Linked DNA regions of Homo sapiens: regions 2 and 3 are each linked to region 1. Evidence: fine-mapped expression QTL. A gene starts in region 1. Each other region holds a variant in brackets. All regions are shown on one strand. Distances are between the middles of the regions.

Region 1 (8,191 bases):
GTACTACACTGTGGCCTTCACTGTGTATCTGAGACTTGCTGGATTCAGGTGAGACTCAGCACATTCCCAGCTGTGGTGGCTATGGGGAGAGCCTCCTTCTGCTTGAGAAAAGTAAAGGGGGCTCTGTCTTGCGCCTTAGGTACCAGCTCAGCCACAGGGTGGTAGAACACCAAGAGGGATCTTGGGGTCTCCAGCCCCACGCCTTGGCTCTTGGATAGCATTTCTGGATCTGCCCTGGCCCAGGGGGTGCCCACTGCCCTGAAGGGTGAGTCCCAGGCCGGGCAGCTGACTGAAGAGTTCTTGGGCCTTAAGGGAACATCAGTGGTAGCCTGCCAGTACTACCTGTGGGTCTATGGTGGTGGCTACAGGGTGAGGCCCCTCTGCCTGTGAAAAGGGAAGAGTGGGAAGGACTGCCATTCATAGGTTGAATGCCAGCTCAGCCACAGTTCAATAGAACACCAGGTACAAGTCTAAGGTTTTTGACGCCAGTACCTGGGTCCCTGATGGCACCTCTGGACCCACCCTCAGGCCTGGGGGAACTTGCCACCCTGAAGGGAAAGACGCAGGCCTGGCTGGCTTCATCACCTGCTGATTGCAGAGCCCCAGGGCCTTGAGTGAACACCAGCTGTAGCCAGGTAATTGTTACAGCAGGCCTTGGGCAAGATCCAGTGCTGTGCTTAGCAATAATTCCCAAATCATATCCCTATCCTCTTAGCCTTTCTCTGAAATTCAAGATCAACATTTCCAATATTTTCTGGACATCTCTAAGTAGATGTATCCCAGATATTTTCATATCATAACTAGTAATATATTTTTTACGTTTTCTTGTATTTTAACTTCCCATAAGTTACACATTCAAATAAAATGTTCTCAAATAGCTGCTTTGATTAATTTTAGTACATACTTACTGATGAGCTATCAGATGACTCATTGTTTTTTTCATATTTCTGTTTCTTGCTCTTTTTTTTCTTTTCTTTCTTTGCTTTTTTTGAATGCTTGTCTTTTTTCTTCTTTTTCTTCACAGAGTGTTCCTACAATCATTTTGAACAGGCAAGAAAATAATTTAATTTCATCTTAATTTAAAAGGATGTATTCTGAGAGAAAAAAAATAAACCACATTCTAAAAAACTTTCAATCTCTGATGAAATAAGACCAAGAATATGTCTAAATAAATAAAATCTTTCAGGAAATCTTAACACACCTTCTATAATATATGCACTATCAATAAATCATATAACTGAGACTTCTTACCAGAAAAATACTGGGAAAATTTTGGCTTTATTTGTAGATTAATGTGACAAATATAATCAAATAAACACATATATACACAAACATGTATACATGCATCTATACACACACAAACACACATACATATAATATCCCTCTATGGTCTCCCCAAAAATTTATACAAGACTATTAGGCCATAAAAAATATAACAAGATAGCACAAATTAAAATTATAGGAAGAGGCTAGGGGAAGGAGCAAGGATAGGGAAAGGGAAGATGTTGATCAAAGGGTACAAAGTTTTCATGACACTAGAAATAAGTTTTAGTGATCTATTACTGATGACCACATTTAATAATAAGGTATTATCTATTTCAAAGCCATTGAAGAACAGACTTTTAACGTTCTCACCACAAAAAAATAAGTTGATGAGGTGATGGATATGTTCATTAGCTTGACTGAATCTTTCTATAATGTATACATAGATCAAACCATCACACTCTAACCCATAAATTTACACAATTATTATTTGTCAATTAAAAATAATTTTTAAAAAAATTATAGGAAAACAGGCTTGAGACCTAAAAAAATAAAATAAAATAAATACATAAAGCTTAAAATGCATAAATTTTTAGGCCTATAAGCTTGCTATAGTGGGCCAGAAATTTGAAGCTGTCTTCTACTAGCCAAACTCAAATAACAAAACTTGAGTCATAATGTCCAAAATATTACAATATCTTACCTCTGCCAAAGAGATGAAACTATTCAGCAATGCCAACTATGTGATATTCATTTTGTAACTTATGAAAACATTCTATAAAATTATTCATCCAATATTAACTTGAATACGTGCAAAAAAGGACAGATATCCTTACATCACGTAAACCTGTTAGTATTCACCTGTGAGAACTGTTCAATTCTCTCATTCACATCAGGTAGCATCCATGTATCCTCACCCCGAAGTCGCTTAAGTTCTTTACGCCTTTCTTCTTTTTCAAAATTGGCTTTAGCCTACAACCAAAGAAAAAAAAAAGACAAACTGGCAATTGACCCAACTGGGTTTCACAAAAAAAGGAAAACAAAAACCTCTGTCATTTTTATACAAAAATATCCACTCATGAATGAATGTCTATTCCTTGCCAGGGATTTGCTTCTCCAGTGTAAAAAAATAAAAAAATAAATAAATAAACAAAACAAAGCAAAAATCTCTCCTTCTGCATTTCCAATCTCCAGTGATTTGAGTTACCAATCAGAGAGAATCCAGGGACTGAGTCCAGGCCCTCCCATCTCTCTAAGCTCCCTAGCTCAATATGACTTGGAATCCCTTTTCCCTTCACCATTCCCATGGCTACTGCCTTAAGACTTTTGCAACAGTTAGACCTCCACGCCTTCAATATGCAATGCCTGTAGCCCCAATACCCAGCCCCAAAAATGCCTCAGGAAGAATCATCTCTGTATAAAGAAAGGATCATATTGGTAATTTTTATCCATTCTTCAATGATAGTCAAACAAAGCAAGTTTTTCCTAGGAAATCGTTCCTGCCCTCTTTCTTTCCCTGTAACTCCAAAGCTCAGTTTGGTCCTTTTCAAATTCTATGCATATCTCTACTATAAGATTTATCTCAACTTACGAAACTTACTCCCTCCAAAAACTGCTGGAAATACCAAAGAGAAAAGAATGAATAATATATATATACCCACACACACACATTACATATGTTGAAATTACGAAACAATACCAACATTTCACCTACCCAAGACTAATCGCCCACTCTTCCCCTTTAAAACCTGGCTGTAGTCATTTTCTTTTTTTTTTTAATCAAATATAAAAATAATTTATTAAAGGTTTATATCAGAGAACTGCTGAAGCAACAAGAACTAGAAGAGTTAATATTCCAGAAAAGGGAAAATCATGGAGAGGTAGTCCAACATTCTGCAGCTAGCTTTTCCCTGGGTGCATATAATAATTCTTGGTGTAGGCAAGAAGATGAATACAATGGTTATATACCAAACAGAAAAATCGATATCAGAGAAAAGAGCAGGGCTTATGATGGACTCCAAAGAACAGGGTGAGAAAATTGGAGATTAAAGGAGAATGGGGCTGCTTCACCCTCAAATTATTTGCCAAATTTTGAAACTATGTCATTTTCCCTTTAGAGTCTCCTCTCCCTCTTCTCTGCTGGCTCCTTCTCATTTGCATTTAAACTTGTTTAAAACTCTTCCAACTTAAATAAAAACAAAAACCCTCACTGAATTCTCTGTTGCTCTCCAACTGCAACTTTTCTCTTTCATTGCCACACTTCTTACATATTGAATAGATTGTCAGATAATTCAGAAGCTTACTTTCTCCATTCTTTGTATGTTACCTCTATGTATCTGAAGTTTAGTGAGAAATACAATGTTTCGCGATCTTTTGTGACAGGCTAAATATACTGAGATTGGTGTTAACTTTTGTTTGGATTGGTAAGAGCTTACAGTAAGTCTGGAATTGATACCAATAGAGACAGGAGGAGGAAATGTCAAACTGAGTCTATTCAAGTGTGACTTGAATGTGTTTCCGAAAAAGGAAAATCTCATTTCAGATACAGCAGTAGCAATGACTGAGGCTGCGAGACATGCTGGCAGAGTCCTTACAAGCCGCAGGGGACCTACAAAGTGTGCAGTCCGAGTGATAGAAATGTAAAGAATGGGTAACTTAAAAGGTAAAGAAACTTGGAGAAAAAGCGACAGATCTGCCTGAAAAGAGAATTAGCAACTGGCACCTGCCAGAACATCTAAAAAATCGGTAGCTACAAAAGGGTTTACCGGCATTGCAAAGGGAGAACTCACCCAAATTAAGGTGAGATTCAGTACTGACGAGGTAAGGGAAGGGGTGAGTGGGCTAGCTTACGGGAACCCTCAACTCCCACAACAATAAATAACTACAAAAGCCCCAAAACAGAGGTACCTGGCGCAACACCTCGGCCCTGGCATTCCGGGTCTGTTCTTTCCGCTCTTCGATACTCTTCGCACTTTCAAATCTACCACTAGCAGCCGCCATACTTGTTGCCATCGTAAAGCTAAGAAGCCGCAAGAAAATTCTAGTTTACGACGGTCGTAATTTAACAAACAAACCGGGACTTCCGGACCCGAGGAAGGAGGAGCACGGCTCCACCAACAGGGCATGCGCACATCTGAGGTCGCTTAGGGCTCGGATTACCGCAGCCCAGATTTTAAAGACCCGAAGGGTGTTGGAGGGTTTAATTCTTTCAGGTGTTGGGTGCGATTGTGAGCAGGATTAATACCCGTATATATTTATTATGCACTTTTTACTATATTAACAGCTTTCTCACCAATTTCGTCTTAAAATCACCGGAGTAAGTTACAAGCTCTTGGAAGTTAAGTTGGTACCTCTCAAAAGTTTTCTGCGGAAGTACCCTTTGTCGCCAGAGCATCATTTCCCTGTGCTGGAGGAATGGGATAAAGGGAGGCTGCCAGAAAGGTAGTGGCAGCTGGCAGGAAGGACAGAATTGCCTTGAAGATTCAGTGTTTTGTTTTGGTGGATTTTACTTAATATATGAAACACTCATGTGAATTTTGCATTGCACTTCACAATTTACCCGTGCTTAACTTGTTAGAAGTTTACATTATATTTTTTCCTCTGACCCCATATTATTTACTCATACTTATCCATCCAAGCATTTTTCATTACAATGGACAGTTACTTATTTATTTCTGCGGAGATTTCTTTGTTTTGTTTTACGCATGTATCGCCCAAACATAAAACTTTTAAGTTCAGAAGAATAAGACATTCTAAGGTGATGAAGTGCTTTGAGAACATAAGACACTAAGCTTACATTTACAAGAAGAAGAAGGCTGGGGAATTAATTATAAACGATACCTTAAAGACGCTAAAAATAAGTAACATAAGCCAGGTTGAGGTAAATACTCTTTCTCTTCAGGTTTCATAAAATTTAATGTGTGTTTGCAAGAAGCTTTCCAAGAGTTTTTACATTCACTACCATTCTATGAGTCTGAATCTTGAACACACAATGCCTACTTGTTTGATATGCAATAGAAAGTATTCATTTTATTTTAAAATGTAATTTACTAATCGACCTTGTAATATTTAATCAACTGACTACATTGACTGATATTTGTCATAACTAGCATCAACGTCTTTTCAGATTCTCTTGGAATTCAGAAAAACATCCATTTCACTGTTTTGCATCAATTCAATAAAAATAAACTGTGATTATATTAGAAACGTGTGTGTTTTAATCAGTTCAGGCTGCTATAACAAAATATTATAGAATGGATGGCTTATAAATAACAAACAAGTATGTCTTACAGTTCTGGAGGCTGGATAAAATCAAGGTGTTGGGCTATTTGCTGTCTAGTGAAGGTGTGTCCTGGTTCCTAGAGGGCAGTATTTTTGCTGTGTCTCATATGGCGGAAAGGGAGAGGGATCTCTCTAGAACTTCTTTTATAGGAATTCATGAGGGTGCTGCTCTCATGACCTAATCACCTCCCAGAGTCCCTACCTCCATATACCAGCACATTGGGGATTAGATTTCAACATAAGAATTTTGGGGAAACAAACATTCGGTCTAGAGCAATGTGCAAAGTTATATGAAGAAAACTTTAAAATCTTGCATAAGCTCCCCAAAAAGACTAGAACGAATGGAGAGGTATACTATGTGCTTAAAGAAGAAAACATCATAAAAAATCATTTCTCAATTAATTTGTAAATACCATGCAATACAAATAAAACTGCCCAAAAAAAAGTTGGGGTTAGAGAGGGGAACTAGATATGTTAAAATAGAAAAAAGAAAAGAAAAGAAAAGAAAGAAAAAGCAGGTTATTTTGGCTAGGTTTGCATTTGGCCACACCTAATGCGAATCCAGTCACATGGCTTAATCAAATAAAGGATAACGTAACAAGGAGCCTAAAAGTAACTGGTCCAGGCTTGGTGCAATTGCTGAAGGAGCCAAATAGTTTATCCTTTTTCGCTTTGTTGCAGTCTGTGACTTTAGTATTTGTAGTCACAAGCAGGGTATCATATTCTTTCACATCTGTTCACGGCATCTGATAAACAAGAATAAAGAGAAAGGACAAAGGGTAAACGTTGTTAGCTAAGCTGGCCTCATTTTTTATTAGAAAAATGATGGCTTTTCCTAAAGCCTAGTTCAGTTTCTTTCATTTAAATCCTATGATCCAGAAATAGGTCAGATGATCACAATTAACTACAAAAGTTTCATGAAGATTGCAGGATAGTTGTGTTATAGAATGTCACTCAACTTGGGTTTGTCGGAGGTTCTTTTGTGATTAAATTCAAATTTGGCCTCTTAAGCAGGACGATCACAGAAGTGAGGCGGTCTTACTGCATCCTGTTGGGTAGCGCATGATTTCCATTTGTTCCATTACAGGTGATGTTAATTCTGATCATTTAAATAAACTGGCATCTGCAGAGCTTCTCTGCTGTAAAGTACCTCTTTTCCTTCTATAATAAGTATTTTGTGAAGTGGTTCTTTGAAACTATGTAGATCATGTACCAAATTTTCAAGTTATTTATTTTTATATAATACAGATTCATAATTTCTCAGTGGATTCCTGTTTTTGTTCAGTGGGATAAAAATTCGTTATCAGTATTTATTTTGATCCTCAAATTGGTCCAGGTTAGGCCAGTGAGAGCCCTTTCAAGCTGGTTCCTGTGTCCTTTAGACATGTACCCACATTCTTTATATATATATATATATATATATATATATATATATATATATATATATATATATATATACTTTAAGTTCTGGGGTACATGTACAGAATGTGCAGGTTTGTTACATAGGTATACACGTGGTATGGAGGTATGCTGCACCCATCAACCCGTCATCTACATTAGGTATTTCTCCTAATGCTATCCCTCCCCCAGCCCCTCACCCCCCAACAGGCCCTGGTGTGTGATGTTCCCTCTCTGTGTCCATGTGTTCTCATTGTTCAACTCCCACTTATGAGTACATGCGGTGTTTGGTTTTCTGTTCTTGTGTTAGTTTGCTGAGAATGATGGTTTCCAGCTTCATCCATGTCCCTGCAAAGGACATAAACTCATCCTTTTTATGGCTGCATAGTATTCCATGGTGTATATGTAACACATTTTCTTAAACCAGTCTATCATTGATGGGCATTCGGGTTGGTTCCAAGTCTTTGCTATTGTGAACAGTGCAGAGATAAACGTACGTGTGCATGTCTTTATAGTAGAATGATTTATAATCCTTTGGGTATATACCCAGTAATGGGATTGCTGGGACAAATGTTATTTCTGGTTCTAGATCCTTGAGGAATCACCACACTGTCTTCCACAATGGTTGAACTAGTTTACACTCCCACCAACAGTGTAAAAGCATTCCTATTTCTCTACATCCTCTCCAGCATCTGTTGTCTCCTGGCTTTTTAATGATCGCCATTCTAATTGGCATGAGATGGTATCTCATTGTGGTTTGATTGGCATTTCTCTAATGACCAGTGAAGATGAGCTTTTTTTCATATGTTTATTGGCTGCATAAATGTCTTCTTTTGAAAAGTGTCTGTTCATACCCTTAGCCCACTTTCTGATGGGGTTGTTTTTTTCTTGTAAATTTGTTGAAGTTCTTTGTAGATTCTGGATATTAGCCCTTTGTCAGATGAACAGATTGCAAAAATTTTCTCCCATTCTGTAGGTTGCCTGTTCACTGATGATAGTTTCTTTTGCTGTGCATAAGCTCTTTAGTTTAATTAGATCCCATTTGCCAATTTCGGCTTTTGTTGCCATTGCTTTTGGTGTTTTAGTCATGAAGTGTTTGCCCAAGCCTATGTCCTGAATGGTATTGCCTAGGTTTTCTTCTAGGGTTTTTATGGTTTTAGGTCTTACATTTAAGTCTTTAATCCATCTTGAGTTAATTTTTGTATAAGGTGTAAGGAAGGGGTCCAGTTTCAGTGTTCTGCATATGCCT
Region 2 (8,191 bases), 40 kb before region 1:
CGCAGGTTCATCAATTGTAACAAATGTACTCCTCTGGTAGGGGCTATTGATAACGGGGGAGGCTGTGCTTATGGAGGGGCAGGAAGTGTATGGGAAATGTGTGTACCTTCCTCTCAATTTTGCTGTGAATGTAGCACTGCTCTAAAAAATAAAATCTTAAAAAGAAAAGTCTTTGAGGTTTCAAAAATGGAAAATGTTGCAACTGTATGACAGGATTAGAAAAAGGCCATAATGAAGAAGGGTGATGTCTGGCACAAATAATAAATAGCATAGGTAAATGTGAAAGAGACACTGGTTATGTGTAAGTCTTGGAGGTAGGACTGGAAAACAGGGCCATACTGTGGAAGGCTATGCTGCAGGAAGATCTGGTACTAACAGTTAGCACTAATAAACCACTTCAAGTTTCAGAGTACAAAATCAGCTAACCACAAGGACACCTGAAAACAATAATTTGGCAAAAGTGTGTAAGATAGACTTCACAGTACACCTAGTTCTAGCTATCGTCCCAGTCCCTGCTTTTTAATCCTACTAGTAATTTCTCACTCTCCATTCTTTAATCTGTGCAAGAAACTTTTTAAAAATATTAGGTACCACAACTTAGTGTAAACAGCCATTTTCATAAACACACTCTTTATAATGTTATCTAAGTCATGAATGATGTTAGCCTGAAGAAAATTCTAGGGAAGTTGACATTCTCATCTCCTCCCACACTGACAGTAAATTATGTAAATTAATCTTTGAGAACAGACCTTTAAAACCAGTTTTAAACTTCATTATATCCCAAACCTGATTCTCCAAAAGAGCAGCTGACTTTGTCCTTCAGCATCAAAAAGAGGTATCATGTAAAAACAAGTACTTTTGTGGGTTTACATCCTTGCCCTGCACTTACCAGTTGTATACCTGGACAAGTTACTTAGCCCTCTGTGCCTCAGTTTCTTGATCTATAAAACTGTAATAATGACATGGACTACCTCAAAGGATACTGTGAAAATTGCATGAGTTATTTTGGGGGAAAGGGGAGGATTTTGTTTTTAGTGTTTTTATTTATTTATTTATTCTTTTTTTAGAGACAGGGTCTCACTCTGTCATCTAGGCTGGAGTACAGTGGTGCAATCATGGCTCACTGCAGCCTGGACCTCCTGGCCTCAAACAATCCTCCACCTCAGCCTCCCAAGTAGCTGGGACTACAGGAGCACACCACCACACCCAGCTAGAGTTATTCATATACATCTAAATCTGTAATGCAGAAGTTGAACTCAGCTGTTCAACTTCTAACTACATTTATGCCTGTGATTATTTTATGCAGTATCATAGATTTAAATATCACTTACATGTTAATAACTCCCAAATTTCTATCTCCAGCACAGAGGACTTTTTCCCAACTACCCAATTCTATCTTCTCCCTACTCCCAACCATCCAACTGCCTACTTGACATCTCCACTTATTCCACATCTAACAGGCATCCAAACTCTCAATATATCCAAAACAGAACCTCTGATTTGCCCCAAAACCTATTCTTCCTTTTTCTTCCACAACTCAATTAATGGCTATTCTTTCAGCTGCTCAAGCTAAAAACCTTGGAGTCCTCTTTGCCTCCTCTCTTTAGCCCATTACCCACCCCCCACCTAAACCACCATAAAAATCCTGTCAGTTTTTCTTTCAAAATATATACATAAAGTATTTATACAAATACAAAATGCAATCACTTCTAACCATCTCCATAGCTACTATCTGTCTTGGTCAAAGCCACTATCATTTCTTATCTGCATTATTACAAAAGCCCACCTCTACTTCAGCTTCTGCAAACCGTTCTTAATAGAGAATCCAGAATGGTCCTGTCAAAATATGTTTTCTGCTTAAAACCATGTAATAGTTTCTCACCACCTCAGTCAGAAAAAAAAGTCCACCTCCTTACCATGACTTTCAAAGCTTAACATGATCTGGCCACCTATAGTCTCTCTAACCTGTATCTCCTACTTCCCTCTCTCATTTATTCCACTCCAGCAACACCAGTCTCGTTGCTATTCTTCCTACACATCAGACATATTTCCATCTTTGGGCCTTTAAATCTCTGTTCCCTATGACTACTGCGCTCTTCACTCAAATACACAGAAATTCACTCTTCCATTAACTACAAGTCCTTACATAAAGTCCTTACACTTTTTCAACAGAATTGGCCTGTGCATTCCAAGCCACCAACCCACCTGTCACTCAAAATTGCCACTACCCTGCCATAGGGTAACTTTCTGATACACTGTATTATTTTTTAATTTGCTTATCATTTTTATAATTTATTGTTTCCCTCCCTACCCAAATGAAAGTTCCATGCAGGTAGGTGTTTTTATTTGTTTTGTTCACTAACAGATAGATGAATTAATCATAGACCAAAGTAATTTGTTTTATATGAAATGAATAACTAATTCAAGTCTCTCATTCTGAAGGAGACAGTTAAGAAGCAGTTTGACTCATACAGAAGCAATCAGTAAGCAGCACAGTCCAGAATAAAAGCAAGACTCCTTGGTCTCAGCCCGAGGCTTTTTTCCACCAGAGCACACTGATAGAATGTAAGAGAATATATAGAAAACTAAATTTTTTAAAACAAGCATGCATACACATAAACACACAGACACATATACAGACACATCTCACATTAAAATATTACCACTGCCAGCTGGGCACAGTAACTCGCATCTGTAATCTCAGCACTTTTGGAGGTTGAGGCGGGTGGATCATTTGAGGTCAGGAGTTTGAGACCAGCCTGGCCAACATGGTGAAACCCATTTCTACTAAAAATACAAAAATTAGCCAGGCATGGTGGCGCACACCTGTAGTACCAGCTACTCAGGAGGCTGAGGCACAAGAATTGCTTGAACGTGGGAGGCAGAGGTTGCAGTGAGCCAAGATCATGCCACTGCCCTGCAGCCTGGGCGACAGAGCAAGACACTATCTCAAAAAAATAGATAAAATAAAATAAAAAATAAAATAAAATAAAATAAAATATTACCACTGCCCGGTGGTAGTTTACACAAGGTAATTACATTCTCCAAACTTTTATTACTTACCTCTACCCCAGATTTTTTTGGTATCTGTGTTATAGTTTCTTTGAATTTATTTGCCTTTTCAAGTTGAACTTTAAGTTGTTCAGCTAATTCCTTCAAAAAGAAAAACAAGTAAAATATGTGCGATATGTAGTTTAATTCTTTACGACAAAATGTTCAAATTTACACAACAGAAGGAAAAACAGCATAACCAACACTCATGTAGCCTTCATCTAATTTCAATTACCAACCCATAGCCTAGTATACTACTTTTTAATGAACTTATCTCAGTTACAAACTTCTTGAATACCTGTGACATGCTTCAAAGATAAATAATTATAAGGACATATATTTTGGAAGAGATAGATGAAGGAAATACATAACCTTAATGACATTTTAATAATTACTAAATATTACAAAAGTTCAATACTTTCAACTTCGGTTATTGGTAACAAAAAAGCTATCACAAGATTTAAACTGTTACCTTCTTTATTGTTGATAATTTAGATGAAAATTCCGAAGATATTTCATTTTTACTCTAGGAAACTTATAGAAATTTATATAAAACAACTGCCATATAAAGCAATAAACCATGAAGTAATACATTAAATAAGTAGATTTATGTGACATGCAAAGAATAGCAAGCACCACCACAGTGTTC[T/C]TCTTGAACACAAGAACACATATTTCACCCTTTTACCTAGATGACCTCTCTTTCACTATTTTAACTAATTCCTCTGTACTTTCAAAGCTCAAACTTTACTTTCTTGCTATCGTTACTGTTGTTGGTTTACTTCCCTTACCAATTTCTAGGACGAGTGGAAGTTCAGTGTTTCCAAGGATCAGATTCAAAGAGATAGAGCAGCATATGCAAGATATGCCCTTTATTAGACATAACACAGAAATATCTTGTTTGGTTACCATTTGTTCTACTACAGTATTGTACTAATAGTTTACCAAAACATAAGACTACTTAAAGATCCCTTATATTTGGGTTTGAGATGAGTGCATACATATGACCATGACTGAATCTATTCTATCAAGATGTGGAATATCTGGCTGTGCTATTCTGCCATGTGCACTTAAATATATACATCTCACTGTATATTATTTTAATATGCATGTGACAATAAGTGAATGGATGAATGGATAAATGCAGCTCTTACCAAATCATCCCTATTTCTTACAATTCTGAGGTAAATTAGTCTTAAATCAAACATTACTACAGGAATTAAATGAGTAAGCCTACACAAAGCATCTAACACAGTATCAGGCACAGCACATTTACTTAAAACTTGAATAAATGACTTAATCCTCCTTTTTAGGTTCCTAAGTAATTTGGAAAAGTAAAAAACATTCTTACAAATATATGACAAAAATGAGGTAGAAAAAGTGACATCTTTATCTCCCTTAAATATGCTCAATGAGTTACAAATGCAGGAATAAAGTAAATAGCCAAGTAAAAAAGAAATTTAAAAGCATGAAGTTCCTTAGTATCTTCAATTTCAGAGATCTGACAGAGAAAGTAGATCATTTATTTAGAAGTAGATAGTATTCTTCACAGAAAGGTTCGAGAATTTTTTTTTTTTTTTTGAGACACAGTCTCGCTTCGTCACCCAGGCTGGAGTGCTGCAATGGCGTGATCTTGGCTCACTGCAATCTCCGCCTCCCAGGTTCAAGCGATTCTCCTGCCTCAGCCACCCCGATAGCTGGAATTACAGGCATGCGCCACCACACCCAGCTAATTTTTGTATTTTTACTAGAGACAGGGTTTCACCATTTTGGCCAGGCTGGTCTCGAACTCCTGACCTCAAGTGATCCGCCTGCCTTGGCCTCCCAAAGTGCTGGGATTACAGGCATGGTGCCAGGCCTGAGAATTTCTTTAAGGAATCAATAACCAACAGTTATTTTCACAGTGTGCTATATCCACACTGCTAAGGAACTTCTAAAATTACTCATAAGAAGTTAAACATTTAATCATTATTCTCTAAAGCAACATCTAAGAGTCTTACCATATTCCCCATCATCTCTGCTTTGATAATCTTGGCTCCCAACTTGTTCTTCTCATCAACACTCAGGATGTGAATGGACTCACGCTCTGGACTGCTATTGGAATAGGAAAGATTAACAGCATATGAAATATAGGTGCGATGCAAGCAATAACATCAAGACTCAAATGTTATTTTAACTGACCTCAACAAAGCATTCAGTACCAATAGCAGATCATGATTGTAATACATGTAAATTAAACTCAATATTTTTCCACAAATTGATAAAGTTCTCTGTTACAATGCCACAACCACCTATGGCAGTTATAATAACTGATCAAAATCCCAATAACAATGAGATAAATAGTACTTATCAACTCTTCTTATTTAATATCCCCATACTCGTAACTTTAAAAAGGAAACAAACAAAAAACGTTCGAACCAGGCCATAATTCTATACATCTTTGGAAACTCTTCTCATTCGACATAAGTTGTTAATAATCTAAGAAACTATAAAATGATATATATATCTAACTGCATTCAAAGAATAAAAGCATTGATCGTGTGCTTTTTTGTAAAGTCAGTCCAGAACATAACATATAGTCAAATAATATAAACTAGTTTAAAACTGGTATCATGTGCCAAACCTATACTATGGAAGCCTCACACAAAAAAAGAAACCTCCAGCCAAGGTCAGATTTCCCTAGCTTACTGCCTTAAGAAATAATTCAAGGCTACAGTGCAGGACAGTGACCTCAGTCAGAGTCTGAAGGATTTCTGAGTAAAGGAGACATAGCCAGGAGTCCAAGAATTCCAAGGCAGCTAGAATTCACAGAACAGAGTACCAAAGAAGCGAAAGCTGCACCATAAGAAAATCCCAGAGAACTGCAGAGGGTTCCCCTTGAGTACTCAGCAAGAAACCACCTGCAGTCAGGGAAAGAACTAGCCCAGAGGATTGGAGGTAGAGTACCTGGCATTCCTGGGAACTGCTTATCCAGTCCCACTAGCTAGACTAGGAAATCACGTAATTCAAAAAGCACTAGACACAGTATTAAAGAGTCTTGCTTCATTAGTGGGAAACAGCATGCCCTAGACTAAATGCTGCTCTGGGCCCACCTAAAAAATGTTAAAACAAAAGTTAAAAGGATCAAATGTTTTCCAATTAATCAGAACAATATAAATATTCCAGAACAAAGCTCAGGAATATTTATAGAAATTCAAAAATGTCTAGCACTCAACAAGGTAGTCTGTAAAACTTAGTATCTAATCAATGATGATCAGACAGGCAAATAAGTAGAAAAACACAACCCATAATTAGAACAAAATGCTATCAGTCAAAATCAACCCAGAACTGACACAGATGTAAAAAACAGCAGACAAGGATACTAAAAGTGATTATTATAACTGTGTTCCATAGGTTCAAAAAGTCAGACACAACAAAGATATAAAAAAGATCCAAAATAAACTTTTACAGATGAAAACTACAATGTGTGAGATAAAAAATATATGGGTAAGATTAATGGAAAATTAAGCTGCAGAAGTAGAGTTTGGTGAACTTGAAGCAATATGAAAAATGAAACAGAGAAAAGAATCTGTAAAAATGAAAAGAGCATCAGAGGGCTGTGGGACAACCTTAAGTATCCCACCATACATGTAACGGAAGATAACTATTTTTAAAATATATTTGAGGTTTATAACAAGTATAAGTAAAATGTATGAGAACACTAACAGAAAGGAAAGAAAGGGAGAAATATAAATAAACAATGATAAAGTTCTTACACCATTCAGGAATAGCATATCACTTGAAGATAGACTATGATAAGTTAAAGGTATAGTACACCATCAAAGACAAAGCAACCACTATTTAAAAAAAAATATATAGCAACCAAGGAAATGAAATGGAATCATAAAAATAATCCAAAACAAGTAAGAAAAAGAGGACAAAGTGAAAAAAGAACAGATGGGAAAAATAGAAAACGAATAGCAAAGTTACATATTTGAACCTAATTATATCAACAACATTATATATAAATGGTCCAAATACCTAAATTAAAAGGCAGAAATTATCAGATGGATATAAAAGCAAAATTCAACTACAAGAAATGTTCTATAAATACACAGACATACGTATGTTAAACATAAAAGGATAGAAAAAGATATACCATGTTAATGCTAGTCAAAAGAAAGTTGAAGTGGCTACATTAATATCAAACAAACAAGATTACAGAGGAAAACAATATTACCAGGGACAAAGAACGTCATTTCATATGAAAAAGGAGTCAATCCAGCAAGAGCGTTTGAATACATGAGCAAAAACTGACAGAAGAGAAATAAACAAATCCACAATTATAGCTATAAATTTCAATACCTCTCTCTCAATATTTGATAGGATAAATATAATAGTCCCCCCCCTTATCTGCAGGAGTTATGTTCCAAGACCCTCAGTGGAAGCCTGAAATCTTGGATAGTACCAAACCTTATCTGTAGTATTTTTTTTCCTATATATACATACCTATGTTAAAGTTTGACTTATAAATAAGGTATAGTAAGACACTAACAACAACAACCAATAACAAAATAGTACAATTACAACAATATACTGTAATAAAAGTTATGTGACGGTGGTATCTCTTGCAGAATACTGTAATATTTTCAGAGCATGGTTGATCATGGGTAACTGAAACCTCAGAAAGCAAAACCATGGATAAAGGGGGACTACTGTAAACAGAATCAGCAAGCATAAGGAAGACCTGAATAATACTATCAACTAACATGCCCAAATGGACATCCATAGAACACACCACCCAACAAGAATAGAAGACACATTCTTTCCAAGTGCATACAAAATATTTCCTGAGATACACCATGTTCTAAGCTATACAAACAGTCTCATAAATTTAAAGGAATTCAAGTTGTATAAACTATGTTCTTTTATCACAATGAAATTAATTAGAAATCATTAACAAAAGTCTCTGGAAAATCCTCAACTATAATACTTGGAAACTAAATAGCGCAACTGTAAATAACCCATGGGTCAAAAATAAGACCAAAGGAAAATTATATGACACATGTCTGAACTGATGGAATGCTGCTAATTCAGGGGGAAATTCATAGCACTAAATATTTATATTAGAAAAGATCTCAAATCAATCACCTCATCTTACACC
Region 3 (8,191 bases), 190 kb before region 1:
TTTTCACCCCATTCAACTCATCTATTCCTCAGCAGCTAAGTCAATTTTCAAGGCTGGGCCTATTCATCGGCTGATATTTCCTCCCTTCCTTTGCTCCCCAGACACTCTCCTAAAGAGCAAACTTCAGGGGTAGGAGAGAAGTGGGATGCCTGAGGCTGGGCCCCCTCACAGGCAGACAACCAAAAGAGCAGGATCTAGCTCCAGGTATGGCAAATTCAGATAACTGTATTTGCTCTCCTTAGGATCAGCCACATTCTGGGAACTGATTCCTGCTCCCTAAAATCACAAGACACCCATGAGAGCCAATTTCATTTGGACAGAAAGCAGACCTTAATGGTGACTGGCAGACTCTTGTCCACTGTGCAGGGTATAGCTCCCTGGCTCCACTCCTGTCACCTCACCCCCAGCTGTCAAATTGCCTGGGAAACCGACTTGTCACCAGAAGATTCATGGCAAGCATGCAATTCAAACAGGAATCTGGGAGATGCTGCTGGTCTTATCCCTACTTCACTAGGCAGCGCCGCTTTAAACGTGACTAGAAAGCTCACATCCTCCAGACACAGTGTCTCTGTGCCTCTGACAGTGACAGATTGGCAATGACGAATTCTTACCAAACACTTGCTGTCTCAATGTTCCTTAAAGTCACCAAAGACTTCTGTCATTACAACATACCTTTGAGACAGAAATGTCACCATTTCTAAGATGACAGCCTTTCATTAGCTACACTCTAAATTGATGCCTTCCTTCTTGCAGGGAGCATCGTGGGTCCCTGGCTGGGAGCTGAGAAGCTCCCTCATCTTATCAGGAACACTCATCCGAATCATTTCTTCCTGAATAGATTTCCACAGATGAGCAATCTCATTCATTTAGGATGCTACTATTCATTTTCATTTCAAAACTTGTCATGTCCTTGCTTTGTCCCCCAAATAGTGGAAACAAACATGGCTCTAAATCTACAAGTGAGTTCAAGTGTCTCGAGTGCCCATATTGTGCTGGACACTAGAGGTGGGGTAGGATGCAAACATAGTAGATATAAAGTTCTTGCCTCTAATCAATGTATGCTCTGGAGATGCAAAACATCTCAAACACAAAATAAAATAATCCAAATGCTATATGGCATGGTAAAGGAGTAATCTAGGGGTGGACTACTCTGAGAGTCCAGGAAAGATGGTTTCAGGGACTTTGCATTGTTAGTCCCTATAGTGGATTAAATGATGGCCCAAAACAAGATACATCCATACCAAGCCCCCAGAACCTGTGAATGTGACCTGATTTGAAAAAGGGTTTTTGCAGATGTCATTAAGTTAAGGATCTTGAGAAGAGATCATTCTGGATTACCTAGGTGGGCCCTAAATCCAGTGACAGACATCTTTATAAGAGACAAGAAAAGCAAGAAGAGGAGATGGTGACGTGAAAATAGAGGTAGAGATTGGAGTCATGCAACCACAGGCTGAGGAATGTGTGGAGCCACCATAAGTTAGAAGAGAAAAAGGAAGATTCTGCCCTGGTGACTCTGGAGAAAGTGCAGCCCTGCCAACACCTTCATTCCAGACTTCTGGCTGCCAGAACCATGAGAGAATAAGTTTCTGTCATTTTAAGCTAACAATTTTATGGCAATTTGTTATGGCAGTCAAGGAAACTAATATGGTCCATCTGCCTGGGATACTCTGTTCTCCCGATTGCTCAGGTCTCAGCTTTAATGTAATGTCCTCAGAGAAGCATTTTCTGATGTCCCGTCCCCACCCCACAGCTAAATTATTTAATAGGTCCCATTATTATACTTATGGCCAGCTCCATGTCTGTTTCCTTCCTGGTACTTAGTGTGAAGTCTACTTACTACTTAAGGCAGAATAATTTATTGAGATATGAATTTATGTTTGTTTTTGCCTAAAAATTCCCCATTGAGGAGATTATAGGGGAAGATGTAGAGCAAGAGGGAAGAAGCAGCCAGGAGAGGAGTAATTCTCAATTGAGTGGTGGGGCGGCCAGCACATACTCCACTCCTTGCAGCACCCAGGGAGGCAGGGAAACCTCCAAGGGCACAGCTGGACCACAGGCGCCTGTGCCCCATCCTCACAAAGATTCCCAGTCCTGAGTGCAGAGCATCAGCCCACAAGGGACCCTCTGCCACAGTGGTCCATGGGCATGATCCAGTGTGACCACGTGGCCATTACTGGGATGCACTTTCCTAATGTATTTGATGCCACAAAAAAAAGTCTGTGTATCTTTTGGCGAGAGACAGAAGGAAGTGTGAGGAGAGCAGACAAGAATTGCTGAGATAGAATTTTTCAGTGTGGGTCAAGATGACAACTCTAATACAAATCTAAGCTGACTTAAATAAAAGTTTTTAAATGTTGAGCTTATGGACTAAGATTTGCACCTGCTGAAAATTTATTTGTGTGATCATTTGTAATGATGTCTTCCCACTAGGCTGTAAGTTTCTGTGACTGTTTTTCTGACTGCTATATTCCCAACGCTTGGAACAGATTTTTTTTTTTTAAGTTTGTAAAGTGAACAGGTGTGAGCCACTGCACCCAGTCCCAAGCTCACGCCTGTAATCCTAGCACTTTGGGAGGCTGAGGTGGGCGGATCACCTGAGGTCAGGAGTTTGAGACCAGCCTGGCCAACTTGGTGAAACCTCATCTCTACTAACAATACAAAAATTAGCTGGATGCGGTGGTGGGCGCCTGTAGTCCCAGCTACTCAGGAGGCTGAGGCAGGAGAATCGCTTGAACCCAGGAGGTGAAGGTTGCAGTGAGACGAAATCGTGCCACTGCACTCCAGCCTGGTGACAGAGCGAGACTCCATCTCAAAAAAAAAGAAAAGAAAAGAAAAGAAAATCCCAGCCAAAAGGGCCATCAGGAGGACTAGGTGACCCCCAAAAAGCAGTCTATGCAGGACAGACTTCAAAAAGTCAGACCCCCTTCATAGGGGGATGCACCTGTACCAGGAAACAGTGGGAAAGAGACCTCCAGTAATGGGATTCTCTGACAATCCCACAGAACTGCTTCATGAGAAAAAGATTAGCTTTGGGACATCTGACACCCTCCAGAGATATCAGGTCACAAGTCAGGTGTTTTTTTTTTTTTTTGTTTTTGTTTTTGTTTTTGTTTTTTGGTGTGTTTTATTTGTTTGCTAACTCTGGTAAAGCCAGAGGAGACTTAGGGGATTGAGGATGGGGAAGGACGTAATTAAAGCATGATCATGATGTTTTTTCCACTGCAGCTTTCCCAGCCTGGATTGGATTCACTTGGGGAAGGGGAGAAACTTTGGATTGGATGAGAGACTAAATTTTATATATGAGACTGGTCTACACTTTTATTACCAGAAAAATGGCAGTATTCATTGGTAGCTGAAATGACTTGATAAAACCATGTGATCTACCCAGGACTTCATGCAGAAGTAGGGAAGAAGGTGTCAATAGAGCTTGCCTAAAGGCAATAGTGTGCAAGAATAAAGCTACTTTCTGCTCATATCCTTCTCAGTTGAGCTCAAAGAAGAGCCTGCACAGTTCCATGGGCTTCCTCCCACAATGATGCCAGGTTTGGACTCTGCATATCTATGGTGAGGTTCTTGCTTGGGTTCACAGCTTACCCTCACAGTCACATCCTGGGGAAAAACCAGGCACTGTAATGCTAGCCACCGTGTCCGGGTTGAAGTGACCCTAACTGCAGTGCCCAGAGTCACTGTCTGTCTTACCTCTTCAGGGCTAAGTCATTCTCTTCAGCCAATCAAATTCAGTAAGGACTTCTTACACTCATCTCCTAAGACAAGATGACCAGCTCCTTACAAACACAGAACTAAAAGAGACTCTCAACATGATCTAATTGACTTAATGTTGCAGAACTAAGGTGAGGCTGCCATATGACACTTTTCGGTATAAGACCTATTTTGAGTGACCTGTGATGTTCACTGTGGACATTTAAAGAATGTTTCTCAACGGGCACACTGTTTAATTTCTCCTTGAATAGGCTACCTGTTACACTCACAATTCATTTAAGCAGGAGAAAAAAATATGGATTTTAGTTGAGGGATGACAGTTTGAATAAATAAGAAGAGATAGCCTTAATAAAGAAAATAAATGGGATCTGGACAGGCTAGGAGGGGAGACAGGAGAGGGAGAAAAGAAGAGATCAAATCACTACTCTCTGACTGTGGAACTCATCCTCCCACTCCAGCTTACATCTGCTTAACTTTAGTTCACATAAAGTCATCATTTCTGAAACTGCTATTTTTTTCCTGTACTGATGTTGAAGAGGACAGTCTCCACCTGCTGCAACCCAACTTTACTCATGCCTTTCTCACACCTTTGCTGTGCTCAGGGGTCTGTACAATTTCTCTGCTCCAGGAACTGCATGAAAACAACAGGGGT[G/A]TGTAGCTTCATTACAGCTTTCCAGGGTTCATTAAATAAAAATAACCTAAATGAAGTTACATTAGGAAGCACTCACATTAAATATCAACTGCTAATGAGCAACTTTTAAGGACTGTCACCAGAAAAGCAGATCTTGTCACCCATTAGGAATTGTTTTTAAAACCAGCTAGGGAAGAAAAAAAAAAAAAAAAAACTGGTTTTCTCCAAGATTCAGGCTGCTTTCCAAAGGAATCGAGTGTCAAATGGTGCAATCAGTGTGTTGAAGAGTCTCAACTGTTGAGATTAGGGGGGAGAAAAACACATTTTTTTCCCTAATAGCTACTACCCAATAATACTAGGCCAAACCCATCCTTCCTCTTGAGTAGGCTGCATAACATTTTAGTCACTTTTGGTTTTCAAAAATGTCTTAGTTTAGATGTCCCAAAAATGTCTAAGAATCAGTTCTGTTCATTTTTAAAGTTCAATATCATATATGAGTCAAAGCACTTCCCCTACTCCATTCCCTCTCCAGCCCCATCTCAGGCTCACCTCATGATTGTGGTTCTAGCAGCTTGTGGTGGAGGATGGGACATGCCTGGCTCTCACATAACCCCTTCTACTCCCTGTCAGGTGGGAAAGAGGAAGAGAGAAAACAGATGTCTCCTTCCCCAACTGAGGGAGGCCTCAGCTCCCTTGTTGGGTGTTCAGGGCCACTTCTTTAGAGCGCTTTCTGTGGGATTCCTGTGGGCTGGTGGCCATTCAAACCTGCCCTGCTAATGGGGGGCCTGCTCCTCAGCAGCACCCCCTAGACCCCGGCAGCCATTTATGAGCTGTGACATTTTGGGACCCATCGTCCCATGTGGGATTCATCCTCTGCACCTCGAGGTAGAGAAGAAATTCTGACCTCTTTTGCCTGTCAGTCCCCTCACCCTGGCAATAACCTTCTGGGTTCTCTTTATTCCTGCTGTGGTAACACAGGCAGATTAACAGGCCCACTATTTAGGCAAGGACTCAACTGGAGACTAACACACAGGTCTCTCTTTCTTCCAGCCTTCTCTCTCATCTTTACAAAGGGTTCCTCCTCCTGGGGCCTTTCTCCCTTCCCTGCAGGAAAAGATGGCACTCCCTATTGTCCTCTACACAGGAAGGTCTTGATGGGAGAAAATAGAGTCAGTCTGTCAGATGCACTGCATCTCACTTACCAAAGGCAGCCTCCCCTGTCCTAGATCCATCCTTATATTAAGTATGAGGAGTGGGAGAAAAGCAAAGGCAGATGGAGGAGCAGAGAGGCCATGTTAGGCCAATTCTCTGAACTAGAATATTTTCAGTCAGCTATGTGGATAAATGGCTGCTGCCAATTTTGGCAGTTCTCTGGACCTAGAATATTGGTGTATGTGGACACTTCTTTTCCTAACTTTGAAATCCTGGGACAACAGAAATATTCTCACATGACATTCCTATACAATAGTTTCTATGGGCTATAAGTAGTTTTCTCAACAATTCCAGAAACACTGCAAATGTTAAGAATATTACATTCCAATACTCTTCCTTTTCTTGACTGAGAAATGTGGTGGTGGAGGAAGAAGTGGTTGGTGAGGCCATAATGTGTAGAAAATAAAGCCCAATAAACACAGAACTTACATACATACATGTTCACATACACACATCTGAGTTTCCATGTCAGGTACATTACATACTTGTGTTGGGAACATTAGGGAATAGATAAGATCCATTTATAAGGATTTACAAAAATTACAAAATTAAAAATTGTATAAAATTTCATGTAATTCAACAGGATTCTCACGGTGTATAATTTTTTTTTCCACTGGAAACCTTTCTTTCTATAACTGTATACTCTTATTTTGTAGTGATATTATTCTCACCCTCTGTTACCTTATATCATTCTTTTTCTTCTAATACATTTATTCAACCTTTATCAAGTATCAAAATGTCTTTTGACATTCTAGTTGCCTCCTACACAGACTGGAGGTGAATGATGGGTACCTTTCCACTATCTTTCTGCAGGCCCTGCGTGGATGAGTCTGGCATCTCTTTTTAGAAAGTGTGGGTACATTGCCTCTATCATCCTTAGCTTTGAGGCTTTAGCTGGAATTTGAAGGAAACAGCATATGTCCCATTTAACAGCCTATTATATTTGGAAAGGAGACTTGACAGTTCATTCCAAGAGTGAAGAATCATTTTACTTTCTGTTTCACTTGATCTTAGCTACCAGGTGTCCACAAGTCCTTCAGGATTTTCATATAATTTGCCTGAGAGAATTTTCCTTAGAGAATGTAGAAGATAAAGGGCTATACATGAAGGCTCAGTGTTACAGATTCCTATCTTTGCTGTATGTAACTAAATTGTTTTTGAGTGGATTATAGAGACTGGAGAAAGAGGTAAACCTATTACTTTTCTCCTTTGATGCTTTTTGACTAGTTTGAGCCTCCAAAAAATAAATTAGGATAAAGAGCAGCACAGGCTATGAAGATGATGTGCAGGTGCATTCATTTCTTTCCAAGTTAAAAATACAGTAGAGAAAGTAGGAAATGCAGTGAGCAAGGTACAGCTCCCTTTATTCCATTGACAAGCATTAAGCACGCATTTTATGTCGGGTACAGGGCTAGGCTTGCACTCTATTGACGAAATGAGGATTCAAATATTGTCTTCAAATTTATTCATTAAAATAGAAATATCATTCACTTTTACAGATGGCAAAATTTGCCATTGCTCCAAAGATACAGCTTTTCTACACTTCCTGGCAATCAATGGAAATCAGGATTTGAGCCATGTTGTGCAATAAAGTCTCCGAACATATTTGGCAAATTAGTATTCCTCGTCTGCACTTGCAGCTTATGAAGATTTTGAGCACAGCTTTAAGACAGCTCTGAAGTTGGGAAGAACTCTGGGGTGCTTTTACCTCATGGGCAGCCACACTGCCTCCACTCCACCTTGGAATCTTGCTTCCTTAGCCATCTGAACACAAGTTCTCTTGGTTCAGCCAGAGCCGGGATCAGGCCAGGAGGTTGGCTGGTGACACTGAAGATGGGAATATTTTCCACAAAGCTGAGAAGTGATGAAGGGCTTCTGGCTCAAGAAAATGTATGTTCACATTAAAAATTCAAAACTCTCCTGAATGCCACTTAGAGTTTTTAAATATTAGATTTATTTCCTCCTAATATACAGGGATGCTGGGAAACGACTGGATGACACAGGCTAGGACTGAACTTCAGGATGTAGAATGAAAGAAAAAAAATCTTAGCACTGCTAAGTTCTTATTTTATAAAAGAATTTAATAACCTCATAAAATAAACAAAGCTCATAAATATCTATTTTATTTGCACCTATGTCTCCCACTGTGATCAGCCATAACCGGATAGTAAATCCAACTGACAGGCAAAAAAAAAAAAAAACCATAAAAAATATTGAAGTAAAACGCTCATCTTTGTGTTGTTTTTTCTAGTCATATATTCAACATAGCTCTTCAGCCAAAGACTCCTTAAGGCAGATTTCTCTGACGCTTGTCAGTACTGCTTCTTTGATTGAGTGGTAATTAGTTCAACTTACAAATTGCAGTTATTTTACTAATGAATCTCAAATGGAATGAAACCAATCAGAAATTATTTACTGGGCATGACAATATGCAAAACAAATAATAAATATTAACTCATTTGTTAATCTATAGGATTACAATTATTACATATAAATATGTGTAATATGTGTGCATATGAATTTGATAATTGTTTTAATTGTATATAATTTATTAATAATTTTAATCATTACCAAAAAAAGTATGACAGGTTCTTACCCTTAAGAAGGTTAGCATCTGTTCCAAAAAAA

Alleles and levels. Positions count from the first base shown, and alleles are read on the strand shown. Sizes are in standard deviations (SD) of each study's normalised expression. Not every link is listed here.
With allele G in place of A in region 3, the expression in breast of the gene that starts at base 4,284 in region 1 is higher (small effect, 0.33 SD a copy in GTEx).

The links. PIP is the estimated chance that this variant, and not a neighbour inherited with it, causes the effect.
Region 2: its variant is fine-mapped to the expression of CWF19L2 in whole blood (TOPMed, PIP above 0.99).
Region 3: its variant is fine-mapped to the expression of CWF19L2 in breast (GTEx, PIP above 0.99). The same link has a PIP of 0.9 or more in left ventricle, lung and unexposed skin.

Annotation. Positions count from the first base shown.
Region 1 is chr11:107,453,542-107,461,732 of GRCh38, forward strand. It overlaps CWF19L2 (CWF19 like cell cycle control factor 2), which reads right to left and starts at 4,284. Exons shown (of 18, transcript NM_152434.3): 1 at 4,171-4,284; 2 at 2,125-2,235; 3 at 909-1,031. The coding sequence starts at 4,275. RefSeq lists an enhancer at 4,063-4,568.
Region 2 is chr11:107,413,146-107,421,336 of GRCh38, forward strand. CWF19L2 (CWF19 like cell cycle control factor 2) reads right to left here. Exons shown (of 18, transcript NM_152434.3): 9 at 5,049-5,142; 10 at 3,064-3,153. Among named protein-coding and RNA genes, the nearest start is that of CWF19L2, 41 kb to the right of the region's middle. The variant T/C (reference allele first, on the strand shown) is at 3,701.
Region 3 is chr11:107,259,403-107,267,593 of GRCh38, forward strand. All of the region lies in intron 1 of LOC105369477 (a long non-coding RNA gene), which reads right to left. Among named protein-coding and RNA genes, the nearest start is that of CWF19L2, 190 kb to the right of the region's middle. The variant G/A (reference allele first, on the strand shown) is at 4,373.